Linked DNA regions of Homo sapiens. The protein of the gene in region 2 purifies or fractionates together with the protein of the main gene of each other region. This does not show direct contact. Each region holds a gene or a part of one and is shown on either strand. Other genes may lie near its edges.

Region 1 (5,320 bases), on a different chromosome or scaffold from region 2:
CTTTTAAATTCATGCAGCCTTACTTCTCCTGGTTAAGACGCTTTATAGCATAGAGATCCACGCACTGGGTAGAGGTTTGCCCCACCGTACCTCAGAACAGTACCCTAGAGCTGCAGTCAAGTATGCTATTGCATCCCATGCTATTTTATGACTCTGGAAGCTTTATGGCCTCGTGTAGACCATTGCTTTATTTTGAAAGCAGTGATCATCTGCAGATCAAGTGGTGAGCATGAGCCTGTGTTATTGTTGCATAGGACTGTGTGATGATATTTATAGCCTTCACCATTTACTTTTTAAACGTAGGTGCGAGAAGCTGCTTATAAAATTTTTCTTTATCCCAATGCTGGTCAATTGAAATGTTTAGAAGAATTGCTCAGCAGCAGAGATCTTCTGGCAAAGTTGGTGGGGTATTCCACGTTTTCTCACAGGGCTCTCCAAGGAACGATAGCTAAAAATCCAGGTAAGCCTGTTTATCCAACATTTAAGGGCAAAATAGGATTTTTATGAAACTGAGCTTTTGATTTTAAATAGCTGTAAATTAGTGTTCTATTTTTAATACATGTAGAGAACCATTTATTGAGATTTTCTATGTATTTTTATAGGAACCATTTTTAAATAGAGCTAATAATTTGGCATAATTCTGTCCAACCAAAGAATTTTATTTTATGTGAATGTTGAGAGTAAAATCATAACCTAAATTTTCATTTTGATGTTAGTCTAAATTGTTTTCATTTTAACACAGTTTCTGTGCTGAATTTGACAAATTGGTTAGAATTAGTGTAAGAGAATGAAAGATCAGTATGTTTACTGAGGTCAAGGTTAAATGTAGGTTAGGTCATATAAAAAACACACAGTCAGATAAGCCTCCTTTTCAGAGAGAAGAGTACTGCTTAGGAAGGTTTGTGCTAGGTGAGGTGTTACGGAAGTGTGTCGTTGGGTTTGTCATAAACTTGCCTTGTGCTATGTTGAGTTCCTTATGATTCATAATGTCTAAGAGAAAATGTTACACAATAATAATATAAATGTACATAATACGTTTTTTCAGAAGCATTTATTAACTTACAGTTGTAATTTAGGTGGTGAGTCAGGAGTAGGGTGGCCGTGATGATGGAGCTGCGTGAGACTCAAGGTCTTGGCAGTGAAGTTGCAAGACTTAGTGAGGGTGAGAGGGAGGAGGAGGCATTGTGGTGGGCCCCCTGGGTTTCTGGTTGTACATCTGGTTAGACATTCCACTCACCGACAGAGGGGACACTGGGGGCAGATCACAACCTGAATCCTCGCTTGTCTTTATTCCTTCTGTGCTTATCCCTTCTCACCCTAGCATGTTCCTCTCTTCTCCAAAGTTCTCTAAATGCACTCAATCTTACTTCTTACTCTTTCGTAAACAACTGTTTCCCTTGACCTGTCAGGGCTCTCGGTTAAGCTACAGGCGTGTCACGCTCATTGCGGCCTGGGTTCCCTTGCTCGTGTCACTCTCCTATGGAGAGCAGCTTTTCTTCCTGGTCTGCCTGTTAAAATCTTACCCCGTTTTTTTAGTGCTCAGCTCAAAACCCACCTCTTTCATGAAGCTGGTTAAACTTTTTCACTTTCCTTGGACTCCTTTGTCCCCGAACCCTTAAAACACTTACATTTTTTTTCATATAATCGAAGCTCCTAAACAGATATAATATGTATGTTATGTATTAAATGTGTGTTTTTAGTGTATGTTTTTTCTTTTTTTGTAAGTATCAGTTTGGTGAAAAGTATGTTTTTCTGTAGTCGCTGTTGTCAACAGTTTGATTATAATAGTACCATATTTTTATTTTATATTTATATAAAATAATAATATTAGAATATCATTCAGTGCTTATCCTGTTGTTATCTCATTTCCTTCCTCTGCAGCTTTGTGAGGTAGGTATTTGTATTCGTGTCACAGATAAGGAATCTAAGGTTAGGTTATATTGCTAAAATGTGGCAGAACTGAAGCCTAAACACATATGCTACATTTATGGTTTTCCACAGGCTGCTTGAGACCTAATGCCCTATGTTTTATATCATCTACATCCCCCTTTTGTTTATTAATTCAGCAAATATTTACTGATTGCCCACTGTATGTCAGATATTATTCTCGGTCAGGGAAATAAGTCAGTGTACAAAGCAGAAGAAAATTCCTATCCTTATGCAGTTTACATTCTTGGGAGCAAGGGAAGAACAGTAAAGAACGAAATAAGTAGATAAAGTATGTGGTATGTTATTAGTTAATACAAGCCATGGAGAAAACTGAACAGGGAAGGGGATAAGGTATGTGGGCATGTAGGCTGGTGTTGGAGTTTTAGAGAGCATTGTCGGAAGGCTCACTTAGAATGTGGAATGTGAGCGTGCTCTTGACAGACACAAGCATGAGGCTGTGGCTCTTGAGGGGAGAAAGGTTTCACGCAGAGTCACTATCAAGTGCTAAGGTCTTGAGGCAGAAAAATGCCTGCCACGTTTGAGGAGGGCAGAGTGGCTGAAGCGCAGCGTGTGCAAGGAGAGTGGCGAGAGGTGGGAACAGACTGACAAGGGGCGGCATTAAGTAGAGACTTGATGCAAGTGCAGCAGGTCACTGTGGGGGTTGGGGCAGAGGAGTGAGATGATCTGACTCCAGTGCTAATGGTGAGTCAGTGCTGCTGTTCCTGAGAGAAGACTGCAGCAGGGCCAGGGTAGAAGAGGGCCTGTTTAGATGCTGTTTTGCAGTAACCATGATGAGAAGTGTTGGCATCTTGACCAGGTGGTAGCAGGGAAGGTGGTAAGATGTGATCAGATTCTGGGTACAGAGTATTTGGAAGAGGGAGCCAACATTTTCGACCTAAGCAACTAGAAAGAGAGTGAGTTACTACTGTTAACTAAGATTGGGAGGACCGGAAACTTGGTTTGTTTCAAGTTAAGTTTGAGATACCAAATGAGGTTCAAGTGGTGAAGTTGGGTAGGCAGTTAGATGGAGTGTGGAGTTCTGAGCTTCATATGTAAGTCTGAACCTCTAAAATGAGATTCTGATACCACTAAGAGAGTGAACTTAAAGAACAAGTCCAAGGACTGCGCTCTGGGGCCTTCAAGTTTAAGAGGCCAGGCATGTGAGGAACTGCTAGTTAACGCTGCCAGATGTAACGGCCACTAAGGGAGGTGGAAAGTGATTACAGGGTGTGGTCCTGGAGGCCGCGCAGAAGGTCTGTCTACAGGAGAGGGGAGAGATCAGCTGACTCATGCTGTGGCCAGGTCAGATGTGAGGAGGGCTGGGCATGACCACTGGCTGTAGCAGCGTGGAGCTCACTGGACCTGCAGCACCCAGCTCCAGATTCCGTGACTGGCAGGTCACCCTTGTGCACTAAGTGCTTGGTGTGCTGATGTATTGGCAGGGGGCTGTTGTGCACATCATCACGTAAGATGTGCTCTGGGTCCTTGAGGATTTAAAGCTTAGTTGAGGAGCTGGATATATGCATATAAAAAGATAAATAATAATAGAGGTTGGCACGTTTTCGGTGTCGATGGAGTAGTACAGACAAAACAATGCCATGGGATTTAGGAGCTCGGGGCATTTGTCAGATGCATCTGTGGCTGTGGAAGGCGCCCTGAGGGAAATGAAACTGTCATGCACAGTGATGGAGTGAGTCCTCAGCAGAGCAGAAGGAAGACAGAGAGGCTGACTGAGGCTAAGGCGGGCATTCATGTGGCTAGTGAATGAGGAGGTAACTGCGGTGAGGCACTTAGTGGGGGGTTTCAAACTGAATCTTAATATGACAATTCTCTGGGGACACTAATTGAGGCAGGCCAGATGTGGTGTCTCATGCCTGTAATCTCAGCACTTTGGGAGGCTGAGGCAGGCAGATCACTTGAGGTCAGGAGTTCAAGAACAGCCTGGCCAACATGGTGAAACCCCATCTCTACTAAAAATACAAAAATTAATTGGGCGCGGTGGCGGGTGCCTGTAATCCCAGCTACTCAGGAAGCTGAGACAGGAGAATCGATTGAACCCTGGGAGGCAGAGGTTGCAGTGAGCCGAGATGGGACTTCTGCACTCCAGCCTGGGCAACAGAGCAAGACTCCATCTCAAAAAAAAAAAAAAATTAATTGAGGCAGATTCTTCACATGTAAAATGACTGGAAGAATAAGATGGGTGAATGTTAAAACACGGTTATTAAGAAATAAAACGTATACAAGCATACATAGGGATTCATTTGAAAACAGTTTGGTATGGTACCTGGAATATAATCCTAAAATGAGATTTCATTGTTGACTAAATAATGTCTTTGTTCCCCAAAAATTCCTATTGTTGTTTCATATGGCACATGAGCCAGTGTTTTCAGAATTCGTATACACAGGACTTGTTAAGTATTGACAGTGGCAAGAAACCTCATGGTTTGGGTTTAGGTTAACCACCATTATTTATTTCCTTAGTCTTTTATTTCACTCAAAAGGAGATAACTTAAATTGAAGAGAGGGCAGGAAACTTAAAACTGTATAAAAGATTATCTGGAAAATACAAACATAGTGTTTGTGGTGAACTAAAATACATATGAAAGCTCTGTACACATAAGTCAGTGATAAAAAGTGCTACATTCAGAAATACTTGCAAAACATTTCCTCTTGTGGGAAACGGTGATAATTCTACTGCACTGCCTTTATGGGTTTGTAAATTATGACAACTATGGCAGAAGTATTTTAATAAAAATACTTTAAAAATTCTATCAGAAGTTAATATTTATTTTTCTTATTTTGCTATTTTTTTCATATTTATCCTGAATAGATTATTCTACAGTTGTATATAACAATAAAATTGTTATCAAGAAAAACATTGATCTTAAAAAATTTATTTCAGGGAATTATACTTCTACACTGCACCTATTTTTATGAACAAAGCAGTCTAGATATCTCTTTAAAACTCTGAAAACGTCAGACATGTCTCAGAACTTTTTTTTCTTACACATATGAATAGATAGAAACACCTTGAAATTTTGTACTTTTTTCTTTAGCCTCCCATTAACTCTTTTTTTTTTTTTTTTTGAGATGGAGTCTCACTTTCTTGCCCAGGCTGGAGTACAGTGGCACAGTCTGGGCTCACTATAGTCTCTACCTCCTGGGTTCAAGCTATTCTCCTGCCTTAGCCTCCCAAGTAGCTGGGACTATAGGCATGCACCACCACGCCTGGCTAATTTTTGTATTTTTGGTAGAGACGGGGTTTCAGCCTGTTGGCCTTGCTGGTCTTGAACTCCTGACCTCAGGTGATCCACCCCCTGCCCTCAGCCTCCCAAAGTACTAGGATTACAGGCATGAGCCACCTGGTCCCATTAACTCTTTTAATTTTGGG
Region 2 (3,500 bases):
CGCGGCTCCTCTGGCCGGTCTGCCCCTCGGGCTCCCCAGCCGGGGTGGCTTTGCGGGGCGGGGGCGGGGGGGCGGGGGGCGACGCAGCTTTAAACAGTGGTCTTTTTTTCCTTTGCCTTCAAGGAGGGGAGATTTGTCGCCTGCCGCTCGCTCTGGGGCTCGATGTGAATATATATTATGTCTGCCTGTTCTCCCCTCGTCGGTGGCTAAGGTAAGCTGGACTGAAATAGGCTATCAGTTTGTGAATGGCGGAGAGTATGTCTCAATGATTTATGGCCCATATGACTCCAATCTCGGTTCAAGAAGAGTTCACAAGCTTTAAGCTTCCTTCCACGCAGCGACTCTCTCTCTCCCTCCCTCCCTCCCTCCCTCCCTCCCTCTCTCTCTCTCTCTCTCTCTCTCTCTCCCTCTCTCTCTCCCCTCTCTCTTCCTGCTTCTCTCCTCTTTTCTCCTCTCTCTCTTTTCTTTCAGCAGCCAGATCCAGGGCTGAATTTTCTCCGCGGCTGCTAAGAAAGTCTCAACCTTTCTCTGTCTTCCTTTCTTGTTATTTTTCTTTCTCCCATTAATTTTTTTAAGTCCTGGAAGATGGCCTATCCCCTCTCTCGGGGCTTCCCCAGCTATTGTTACTCTCCTGGCTCTCCCTGGGGTGTGCTTGGCAAGGTGGGGTTCTTGCGGGGGGCTCATCTCCCTTCTCCAGCGAGACCCTGGGGGGAAGCCGGCAGCCACCGTCTCCCTCCCTCCCTCCCGAGGAGCCATATGGAACCTGAATTTTTCCAACATGGAGGCAAGGGAAATAGATCTGTTTGGCTTGGTAGAGTTGTTCCCCACCCCCTCTTGTTCTGGATCCCAGATCTTGGGTCCCCTTAGCACCTTTCTCTCTTCCCACTGTCCCGTCCGCCAGGCCTCGGCGCCCTCCAACCCGGAGCCCTGCTGAGCAAAGTCCCGAAGCGGAGTTTCTAAGGCGCCTTTTAATTCGGTTACCTCCAGCTCCCAAAACTTGCTGCCGCCCGCGGGGCTCGGCCCTCGGCCGGCTGGTGTGCTGGGAACCTGCCTCCGATAACCGTTTTGGTGTCCTGATCGCTTGCTCTTCTTCGCCTCCTTGGGCCATCGTAGGTGGCTGGTAGCTTGTCGCCAGTCGCCGCGGCAGCAGCGACCGGCTGAGGCAGCCTGGCAGCAGCAGCCAGGGACTACCCGGGTGCACAAACCTTCCCAGCCCTGTCTGCACCACCGGCGGAGTCTCCATTCTTTCCTATCGCGTCTCTGGCTCCTTCGCTTTCCACACTCGCCTGGCCTCCGTCCCGCGATGGTTTGGGGTTTATTGCAAGGGGAGCGGCAGGAATTTCGGCCCCAGGCATCTAGTTAAATTATTGTTTTATTATTATTACTATCATCATCATCGTCATCATTATTATTGCTGTAACAATCAGACTAAATAAAGCCAGGGCCTAGCCAGCCAACCCCCTCCAACGTTTTTATTTCATTCTCTTCTCTATTAATAACAACCACAACTAATGCCTGTTAATTAATTCCCCCTTCAGCCAGGGCTGCTTGGAAGCTAATTTTGGTTAAATCAGCAGAGGCTAATGGTAATAATAATAAAGGGATTGGGTCAGCCTGGTCAATTGAACTCTGGTTCTCCCTGGAAGGACCTGCTGCTTTGCAGACCCATGTGTATTTCCAGAAACCAATCGGAACTCAGGGTTACACTGATTCCCTTTTGAGTATAAATCTGTGCCATGAAGAAGGGGATTTATGTGAGGGAGGGACTTTTCTTCACCTGCACTCCTTTTATTTTATTTTCCTATGTTTAGTTTTCTTTGGAGTTGAACAGCTAGGCTGAATGAGATTAAAGTTTTCCAAACACACATGGCAGTATGGAGGTTTTATGAAAAGTGATGGTGAAGAGTTGGGAGAGATGGAGGGAAAAAAATGCAGTCAGAAGTTTCAGAACAAATACACAAAATCCTATGTTAGTTTGAATCTTTATTTTTCTGGCACACTTTTAAAAGGCTGTATTAAAATAGTGATTTTTTTTTTTTGCCTCAGGGAACCTCAGTCAACAGGAATACCTCTGTTTCTAACCTAGAGAATAATATTGTTAAAATTGCTTTGTTAATTTTTTTTTCCTCAGGAATAATTTTCTCTTTTGGAAAGCACTTTCCCCGTCTCAGTAGAAAAGTCTAGCAGTTGTAACTTCTTGTTTCTTATTTGCTTTGGGGGAAATCAAAGAAAACAGACGGTGAAGGAAAGGGTGGGAAAAATTAAGTCTCATGAAAAAAAAAAAAAGAGGTCCGGGGAGAGACCTGGGCCAAATGGTCACAGCACCAACTGGCGTGGCCCAGGAAATTGAAACAATCCTGCTCCATGTGGGGGCCCCACAGGGCCACTGGCTGCCCGATCCCAGGTTTGGCTGAGCAAAGACAAGGGCTGGAGGTGGTGGTACCTGCAGCAGGGCCATGGACAGATGAGTCTCGGTTCAGCTGGCTCTTGAGGTTAAAAATCATCAGGAAGTTTCTAGGTCAGGCTGTTGTTGTCTTCCTGGTGGGAGAGTGGTGGGAAGTGGAGAGGATACCTCACAAGAGAAGCTTCTCTGCTGAACTTGCTTCTCCTGCCTGTTCTTTTAGGAGATCCTTTGGTTTTCCTTCAGGCTAGACTTTGCTTGGGCAAGAGACCTAAACCGACTTGGAAGGAGGCAAAGGCTGGAAGCATAGAAGCCTCTGGGCTCAGAGGAGGGTGTTGATGATGCTTTTATTTTGGAGTCTCCTAGTGTCCCCTCCCTTGAGCCATCCTATCCCAGAGTTGGGGAGGAGAGATAGGGAGAGAGGGACTAGGGGAGGTCAGGGGCTAGTGCACAGGCAGGAGAGAAGCAATGGCCTTTGCCATAGATTCTACATCTAGGCAGTCTTGAAAGGCATATAGTCTTTATTTATTTTTTTATTTTTTAGTGGAAATGAAAACTGGTGGGCTTTTTTTTCTCAGCATCTGCTTTGGAGATGTTGGGGAGGGGAAAAGAAAAAACCCTATTGATGTCAGTTCCCTTTTCAGTTCCTAAGATGGATTCGAGCCCCAGTCCTCTTCTCCCCCTTGTGTCTCTTCTCTCGCCTCGCAGGTCAGCCGCTTGGAACAGACCCCGGAGGAGGGGGGCAGAGAGGGGAGGTGGGGGGGGGGGGTCCGGCGTGTCACGTGACCCCCAGGGTTGCCAATGTCCGGTCCTGAGGGTATCAGGCCTTTCCAAGTTGCCACCCACTGCCCAGGCCTCACCCAGCGATGCAGAAAGCCACCTACTACGACAACGCCGCGGCTGCTCTCTTCGGAGGCTATTCCTCGTACCCTGGCAGCAATGGCTTCGGCTTCGATGTCCCCCCCCAACCCCCATTTCAGGCCGCCACGCACCTGGAGGGCGACTACCAGCGCTCAGCTTGCTCGCTGCAGTCCCTGGGCAACGCTGCCCCACATGCCAAGAGCAAGGAGCTCAACGGCAGCTGCATGAGGCCGGGTCT

The links. Proteins that work in one complex are often made in the same cells at the same time.
Region 1: the proteins of HOXB3 (region 2) and MIPEP purify together in Homo sapiens (affinity purification with mass spectrometry; one large-scale study listed by BioGRID and IntAct). This does not show direct contact.

What each region holds. Positions count from the first base shown.
Region 1 is NC_000013.11:23,864,432-23,869,751, reverse strand, and holds part of MIPEP (mitochondrial intermediate peptidase), read left to right. Parts: intron 1-303; coding exon 304-460; intron 461-5,320. UniProt on the Homo sapiens protein: Cleaves proteins, imported into the mitochondrion, to their mature size.
Region 2 is NC_000017.11:48,552,242-48,555,741, reverse strand, and holds part of HOXB3 (homeobox protein Hox-B3), read left to right. Parts: exon of another isoform or gene 1-17; intron 18-123; coding exon of another isoform or gene 124-211; exon of another isoform or gene 212-3,109; 5' UTR 3,110-3,267; coding exon 3,268-3,500. UniProt on the Homo sapiens protein: Sequence-specific transcription factor which is part of a developmental regulatory system that provides cells with specific positional identities on the anterior-posterior axis.